2 separate regions of the Homo sapiens genome follow, and region 1 is linked to region 2. Evidence: fine-mapped expression QTL. A gene starts in region 2. The other region holds a variant in brackets. All regions are shown on one strand. Distances are between the middles of the regions. Region 1 has its middle 56 kb from the start of BRCC3. Region 2 holds the start of MPP1 (MAGUK p55 scaffold protein 1).

Evidence for each region. PIP is the estimated chance that this variant, and not a neighbour inherited with it, causes the effect.
Region 1: its variant is the best candidate, but not a certain one, in a credible set for the expression of MPP1 in blood mononuclear cells (TOPMed, PIP 0.50).

The regions. Positions count from the first base shown.
Region 1 is chrX:155,125,232-155,129,632 of GRCh38, reverse strand. No RefSeq gene overlaps it. Among named protein-coding and RNA genes, the nearest start is that of BRCC3, 56 kb to the right of the region's middle. The variant G/A (reference allele first, on the strand shown) is at 2,278.
Region 2 is chrX:154,802,808-154,807,208 of GRCh38, reverse strand. MPP1 (MAGUK p55 scaffold protein 1) reads left to right here and starts at 1,724. Exons shown (of 12, transcript NM_002436.4): 1 at 1,724-1,937. The coding sequence starts at 1,836. RefSeq lists a silencer at 1,600-1,759.

The DNA of each region.
Region 1 (4,401 bases), 320 kb before region 2:
TTTCTTTTTGATACTTGGGTCTCTGATAATTGACCTATCTTCAAGTTTACTGATTCTTTCTTCTGCCTGCTCAAATCTGCTGTTAAGTCTCTCTCATGAATTATTCATTTCAGTTATTATAGTTTTTAGCTCCTGAATTTCTATTTTGTTCCTTTTAAAAATTTTATCTTTGTTATCTCTATTTGGCGAGATATCATTTTCCTGATTTAATTGTTTATTCATGGTTTCCTTTTGTTCTTTGAGCATATTTACAACTGTTGATTTAAATTGTCTAGTAAGTCCAAGACCTGGGCTTTGTCTGGGACAGTTTTTATAAACTTTTTTTTCCTGTCAGTGGGCCGTACTTTGTTTCCTTGCATGCCTCATACTTTTTTGTTTAAAACTGGACATTTTGATGTTATAATGTGGTGGCTCTGGAAATCAGATGTCCCTCTCCCCAGGGTTTGCTGTTGTTGTTTAGTGAATCATGTAGCTGGGACTACAGGCACTAAAATTATAAAACCTATACAACATATTAAAGTTTTAGAATTATGTTAAATGAAGAAATCCACATGCAAAACTATAAGATGCATTAATACTAGAAATGAATAACAGAAATAAGAAAGAGAAGACCAAAAGGACTACCAAAAATGAGTTATTTTGAGGAAATTATAGGTTTCTCTTCACATTTTTCAAGTTTCCTTTATTATATTACTTTTGTGATTTTAAAAATCGGACACTTTAATTTTGTATTAAGAAAGTAATACATACTCATTGTAGAAATTCAAAACACAATTTACAGAAGAGTTCAAAGTGAAAAATAAGACTTCCCCCTGGCCTTAAGCTCAGTAGATTTTAAAAAGTAACTTGTTATAAACTTACCAAAAAGTTGGAGGAATAGTACAAAGAACTCCCATGTTCACTTCATCCAGATTGTTCAATTGGTAACACTTCACATTTCTGCAGCATGCATGCGTGCATGTGTGTACCACCATTATCATATGGCTTTTTCTTAACCATTTGAGACCAAGTTGCAGACATGTTCCATCAGTCCTAAACACTCCAGTGTACAATTCTCAAAAACAAAGACACTCTTGTACATAACTACCACATTGTCAAAAAAAGGCCAAGCCCAAGAGTGATTGATTTGGCTTCTAAAGTAATGACATGTCCTTTTAAGATTCAGTTTATTACCTACATAGACAGCAAGAGGAAGATGGGCCAAAGGTGCCAGCTCCCCATGTCCTTGTTCCCTGCACCAAACAGGACTTCTGAAACAAGGCCTGCATGTTTGCTGCACCAGTTATGGGACACTCCCTTGCTGAGGAGCCCCTTTTAGACTGCAGCTAGCAGTTTTATATTCTGTAGCTATACCCTGAGTGGGGCAGAGCAGATAGCCTCAGACCTCAATAGTACTCAGATGAGAAACTGTCTGTCTCAGTGGCAGCCTCCCAGGAGAGATTAGGAGGTTAGAGATAGCCTTGAAACAGCACCTCACCACCCTCCCATCCTCTTGTGTTCTGGGAGGATCATGATACATCCTGCCAAGACTCAGATAAGTTGCAATTCAAGCCTAGCTTGCATAGATATATGCATGCCAGGTCACAAGGGCACCATGGCAGATCCACTCTCTACAGCTCCATCCCTCACTTTTCAAATAGCTAGCTAAGAATTCTCAGGAGCATAGGCCACCCCATCAAATTACTCTAATTAACTGTGCTTATAGGGGCCTTAACCAAATACATTCTGATTGTTTTGGGCAACATATACAAGAATGAGTCTCTAATTAGGCCCACTTGGAGGATACACACTGCAGCTAGGCTCCCCAACTGGAGCCAAGCCAGTTAAATATTTCATTAACCCAGGTGCAGTAAGGGATGCTGACAGTTGCACATATCCTGCCTTGACTGACCAGCAGGAAGTCCTGGGTAATGTGTTATTGTCCCATTACCATGTACATTAGAGACAATAGACCACTTTGTGTGTGGCAAGCTAGTATAGGTAGCTTCTTTTCATGTAAGAAGTTGTAGTGACCTCAGCAGTGCCATTGTGTTGAGTTGGGATCAGGGTCCAATTCTATTAAGCTCTTGTACAAAAGAGTTTTGTTAGTTTCCAGAAAGTTAATCTCATTCTATCGTTCTGAATGGAGGCTGTTAACTACTTGAGTCAGCAGTTCCTGGGAAGTTTCTGAGAGTCCTTAGATTAAGATTTGTTGGCCAGCCATTGAGTTGAAAGTGGTGGTGGCAGTCTGGGCTAAATTGTCCAGAGGCTCTGCAGACAAGTAGCTGAGATGTTAGC[G/A]GCCCCTCCTCTGCCTTCACAGAGTTTAAAGTGTGCTCTCTCCACCAGTCAGGACTGTTGCCCTCCTTTCACAGCCATGTGATTGATGTTACCAGTCCTTACAGCAGTCACTTCACCCTTTTCCAGTCCTTTCCTTGTCTTACCTACACCTTGCTCCTAAATTGTGTATTAGTCCATTTTTGCATTGCTATAAAGGAATACCTGAGGGTGGGTAATTTATAAAGAGGTTTAAATGGCTCACAGTTCTGCAGGCTGTACAGAAAACATGGCATCAGCATCTGCATCTGATGAAGGCCTCAGGAGGCTTACAATCATGGTGGAAGGCAAAGGGGGAACTGGTGCCTGCTGCCTGGGAAGCACAGATCTGATGAGTGTGTGGATTCCAGTGATGTTCATCCTCAGGCTCCTGGGTCTTGTGCCATCTGCTGCTGTAATGTTTGTCTCACAGAGGCTGAAACATGATCATCCAGTCATCTTGCTGAAAACTTCCTAAGTCTAGTAAGAGATTTAGACATCCAGATACAGGAAACTCAGAGATCCCCAAATATATACAATTCAAACTGTATAAGGAGTTGGGTCTTTTTTTCTTTTTAAACAAAAGCAGACATTACAATAACCAATAGCTGTTGCAGACCAGGAGCTCATTTTATCTCCTTCGCAGGGAGCTTAGGGAGCACAGGTCAGAGCGGAAGAGGCCAGCCTGCAAGGTCAGCTGGAGCTGCAGGAAAGTTTCTTCTTTTGTGTGTCTTTTAAAAAAATAAACAGCTTTATGGAGACATAATTTATACACAATTCACCCATTTAAAGTGAACAATTTAATGACTTTTAGTATAGTCATAGAGCTGTACAACCATCACTGCAGTCAACTTAGAATATTTTCATCACCTCAAAAAGAAACCTCATCCCTCTTAGCCATCAACCCTCTATCCCTGCTCCCTCCTACCCCTCATTCCTTTTTATGGCCAAATAATATTCCATTGAAGAACAGACTGCATTTTGTTTACCCATTCATTGGTTGATAGACATTTGGGTTGTCTAGTTTTTGTTTAAATTTCTGTCTTCAGTTCTGTGGGATATACACCTAGAAATGCCCTTGCTAGGTCTTATGGTAATTCTGTGTTTAAGTTTTGGAGGAGCCATCAGCCAGTTTTCCAAATTGTCTACACCATTTTATATTCCTACCTGTAGTGTACAAGAGTTCCAATTTCTCCACAGCCTCACCAACACTTGTTATTCTCTTACATTTTTATTCTGGTTAGTATAAAGTCATATCTCATGATTTTTATTTCTCTGGTGACTAGTAACGTCAAGCATCTTTTCATGTGCTTCTTCGCAATTTGTAGGTCTTCTTTGGAAAATTTCTATTTAGGTCCTTTGCCCATTTTTGAATTGTGCTGTTTGGTTTTTGTTGTTTTCAGTGTTCTTTATATATTTTGCATACTAGACTCTTATACATAGGATTTGCAAATATTTTCTGCCATTGTCCTGAGTTTTCACTTTTTGATCATGTCTTTGGATGCACAAAATTTTCTAACTTCCATAAATTCCAATTTATCTATTTTTTATTTGTTGCTTGTACTTTGGTGTCATATCTAAGAATCCATTGTAAAAACCAAGATCGTAAAGATTTACTACTGTTTTCTTATAAAGTTTTTATTGTTTAAGCTCTTGAATTTAAGTCTTCAATACGTTTGGAGTTAATATTCATTTATCGTGTGGGATCTCAGTCCAACTTCATTATTTTGCACGTGGATATCCACTTGTCCATTCGCCAGTTGTTGAAGACTATTCTCTCCCATAGTCTTGGCACCCTTGTTGAAAATCAGTTGACTGTAGATGTGTGGGCTTATTTCTGGACTGTCAATTCAATTCCATTTTTAGTGGAGGGTTTGGAAATCAGCATCTTGGTGCTAGCTGTGCTCATAACCACTGGGTGTCACTTCTAGTCCCTCTTGGTGGACGGAGCTGAGACAGATATGTACATATACACATACCTTTCTCAGCTCTGAGATATATATATATAGGGTTTCTGTGTGTGTGTGTATATATGTGTGTGTGTGTGTATATATGTGTGTGTATGTGTGTGTGTGTGTATATATGTGTGTGTGTGTGTGTGTGTGTGTA
Region 2 (4,401 bases):
GATTCACATCCTCCCCAACACTTGGTACTGTTAGACTTTTAAATTTTTGACAACTGAATGGGTGAACAGTGGTATTTCATTGTAGTTTTGCTTTGCATTTTCCTGATCACTAATGATGTCGAACATCTCTTTATATGTATGTTTATTGGCCATATGCGTCTCTCTGTTGGTGAAATGCCTATTCATGTGTTTTGCCCACTTCTTTACTGGATTGTGTTTTTCTTAATAATTTGTAGTCCTTTATATATTCGCAATTGGAATTCCTTGCCACTTATCTGTATTGAAAATATTTTCTCCCAATGCACAGCTGTGTTTTTTGCTCTTTATGGTGTCTTCATAAATTAAAATTCTTAAAGTCAAAGTTACCACTATTCCATTCTATGGTCAATGGTTTGTCTACATTGTTTAGAAATCTGTATCCCAAAGTCTAAAAGTTCCTTGCCTATGTTTCCTGTCAAGAGCTTTAAGGGTATGTTTTTGACATTTAATTCCTTAATCCATCTGGAATAGATTATTATTATTTTCCATATCACATGAATGAGGATTCCAATTTCATCTTTTCCAATATAAATAACCATTTTCCAGCGTCAGTTAATAAAATGTCCCTGTTTACTTACCTAACATGCCACTTCTATCATATACCACATTTCTATACTTGCATGGTTGCGTTTCGGGGTTCTCTATTCTATGCCATTGCTCAATTAATCTATCCATGCCTCAATATCACAGTCTTAATTTCAATCTCTCCCCCCCCACCCCACCCCCCCCTCCCCCCCCGTTCGTTTAGAGTGATCTTGAGGAAGGGAACCGTCATTCACATGAGTTCGGCCTCTTGGTAGAGAAAACTGGGCAATGCAGCTCTAAACTGTTGCCCTTGGATTTTCTCCTCTTGGCTATGAGCTCCTCCTTCCCAGGAAGCTTTGAGGAAGGTCAGAATAAGATTACATGTAGTGATGAACTGCTTCTAATACTGTGAGGCTACTAGCTTGGGGTAGGGGACCAAGAGCCGTACAAGCCCATTAAATGTTTGTTTTGTTCAGAAAGCCTTCCATCGCTGTGACTGGTGTTTGAATGTCTCCAATGCGTTAGGATGCTAAGGAATCCTCCTCTAGGGTTACTAAGGAATGTTTGCTGCCTTTGCTTTCGCTGAGCCGGAAAAATTTTGTGGCATTTACAGCAGGAGATCTGCCCTAAGTAAAAACAGTTTGGTTTTGAAGGCAATAAGATGTTTCATCATCAAACAGCACACAACAATTAAATGACAGGGTGCAGCAGCACAGCAGCCTTAAAGGCATTTTCGCAATGTCCAGATCTCAAAGGGTAATGCTGCGCCCGCATCAATTTATGGGAAGAGTCTAGAGTTCACCTACATCTTTTGAACTCCACTAAGCCGGCCGATTCTGATTTCCCTTGTTGCCTCCCTGCAATCCCCACGAATTTGGCCAGGGCACCCGGGCGGCTCAGGCCCAACGGGGCGTGGGCCGTGTGCTCAACCACCCAGAAGCTGGGGGCCCCCTCCCCTTTCTTATCTTTCTGGCATTCATCTCACGCGGCCACCTACAGCTACGACTTCCTCAGGCCCTTTAAGGGCCGCTTCTCGGAGCGCAGGGAGCCGCGGAGTCCGGGGCGTGGGAGACTTCCATGGGCGGAGCGAGGGCAGGAGTGGGCGGGCCGTAGGCGGAGCTCCGTCCGCGCCCTCCCGGCGCACCGCCTGCGGGGCGGTGACTGGCCCAGCCGCACCGCGTCTCCCGCCTTCTCCGCAGCCCCGCAGGCCCCGGGCCCTGTCATTCCCAGCGCTGCCCTGTCTTGCGTTCCAGTGTTCCAGCTTCTGCGAGATGACCCTCAAGGCGAGCGAGGGCGAGAGTGGGGGCAGCATGCACACGGCGCTCTCCGACCTCTACCTGGAGCATTTGCTGCAGAAGCGTAGTCGGCCAGAGGTGAGCGGGCCCCGCTAGTCCCAAGGGCGCTGGGCCGGGGCTCGGCCATTCATCTCGGGACTTTCCCTGTCCCGGTCCCTGTCCCCGGGGGGCCTGTCCTTGCGGGTCCTGGCCATAGGTCGGAGACCGCGATAGCCGGCGGGGTGAGGACAAGGCCAGCGCGCGGCCGGGTTCGTACCGGGCTGCTGGTGCAGTGGATCCTTGCCCCCAGCAGTCCTTCCAGTTGGAAATCAGGAGAGGCAGCGGCCTGGACAGTGCGCTTATTAAGGGCAAGGAAAACTTCCTCGTGGACGGAAGTCAGAGTAACAGAAAGTCTTTAAGGAACACATCAAGGAGTAGGTCTGCCTGGTTGTTGTTGAAGTGCTTGTGTTTGGGTCAGCAGAAATGATTGTAAAAGCCAGCTTCTGGTTCTAAAGAGCTCACTCACTGTTCCTCTTCATTTAGGCAGGTCCCCTTGTGCTATGGTGCAAAGAGGGTGGCCAGTGTATATTTGCGGGTGGAACAAGGAATCCAGATTCCAGGGATGGATGGCTGGTAAATAGCTATTAACCTCCGTCCTCAAAGATGCCCTAAGGGTAGGTTGTGCTTATCTGTTACTGGCAAATCTCTCCCAAACTCGCTGGTTTACAACACTGAGCATTTTCTTGTCTCTCATATTTCGTTTTGATTGGGCCCAGCAAGGTGGTCGTCACTCAGGGTCTGTCAGGTGGGGACACGGCTCACTTACTCATTTGGAGCCATGAGCCATGAGCCAGAAAATCAACCAGCAGCCTCTCCCTGTGGCTTGGTCTTCCTCACAGCATGCTGGCCAGGTCCCAAGGGGAAAATGTCCAGAGAGAACCAGAGAGCCAGGCAGAAGCTCAGAAGTCACAGCATGAACCTCCTTCCTAGACTGCAAGGTCTTCTAGGGCAGGGCCGTGTCATACTCACTTCTTTAAGTGCCCAATAAGTGGGTCCTCAGAAATGTTTGCTAAATTAATAAATGACTGAAGAGATGGACATTTGGGATTTACAGTAACCCTCCGATTTCACAGATGAAAAAACTGAAGGTCCCTGCAACATAAGGCAAGCAGTAGAGCTGTAGACTCTTTGGGCTAAGTGGCATTAACTCAAGGAAACAAGTAATGGGCATCAGAACTGAGGCTAGATTTTGTGTCTGCTGCACCGCATTGCCTTACCCTTTATATTCCACTCGAGTGAGGCATTCACACCTGCCTGTCATTTCAAATCAGGATTGCAACAGCCTGAGTTTAAATGAGTGCAGAAATAATACAGGCATGAAAGATGCTATTGTTATACAGATGATGAGACAAAATTACAAGTTCTGTTACCTGATTCCCCATAAACTTGGACTTGTGATTTTTTTCTTCCCCACAATCAGTACTCACTTGGCTGAGCCTCAACTATTTTTAAAAAATCTATTTATTTCTGGAAGTCTTATTGAGGTACACTTAGCATACAGTAGAATTCATGAAATTTAATTGTGTAGTTTGATGACATTTGACAGATGTATATAGTCATGTAACGACAACCACAATCATGACAAAGAATAAACATTTTCAAGGTTCCAGGAAGTTCCCCTGTGACCCTTGGCAGTCAGTCACCTTCCTCCACCTGGAACATGGCAACCACTGATCTGTCACTATAGATTTGCCTTTTCTGGAATTTTATATAAATAGAATCCTACAGTATGATGTATTTTGTGTCGGGGTTCTTATGTAAACCTATGTGTTCCCTTATGGGCATGCTTGAAAGACTGTGCCTTTTTGAAAAGAGGCCCTGTCACCACCAGTGTTATGTTGTGGGCACAACCTCTGAGTAAACAGCACGTTTTGTGGGGCTGTGAGTTTATACTGTAATATTGGAGATAGTCTACCAGTTAGCTAATTTGTTTGGTTTTTACTAACGGATTTGAAGAAGATCAAATAAGAAAACTTACTGAATCCCTGAATGAAATAGTATCCAGCTGTGCCAAAGTGAGCATCTGAGGGAGACTCTTCACACGATGAAGTGTGGCTTGACTCCACAACCTGCGGATTCTTATTTCTTTAGGTTCACCTTCCCTTTGGGGCTCTTACCAGTCTTTGCTGCAGCAGCAAGCTCTGCCTTTCACTTGCTGCATGGTTTTGGGCAAGCTGCTGAAGCTCTCTGTGCCTTAGGTTTCTCTCCTTTATGAAACTGGCAAGTTTGGAAGGTTGTGGCAACATTTACATGAGATAATGCTTGACAAGGACCTTGAGCCACACTGGGACATCCAGGGTAATGACCCAGTATCTCCCTAGGAGCTGCCTGCCCAGTAGTAGCAGTCAGAAAGTTTTCCTATAATGGCAAGATTTGAAGCAGGAAAACCTGTGAGGAAGTTGTTGGCTTCAATAGAAATTATAAAATTATTTTGCTGAAAGTTTCATTTAAAGGTGTCACTTTATGGAAAAAGGCTACCGATTCAAAACAAAGTTTCACTTCC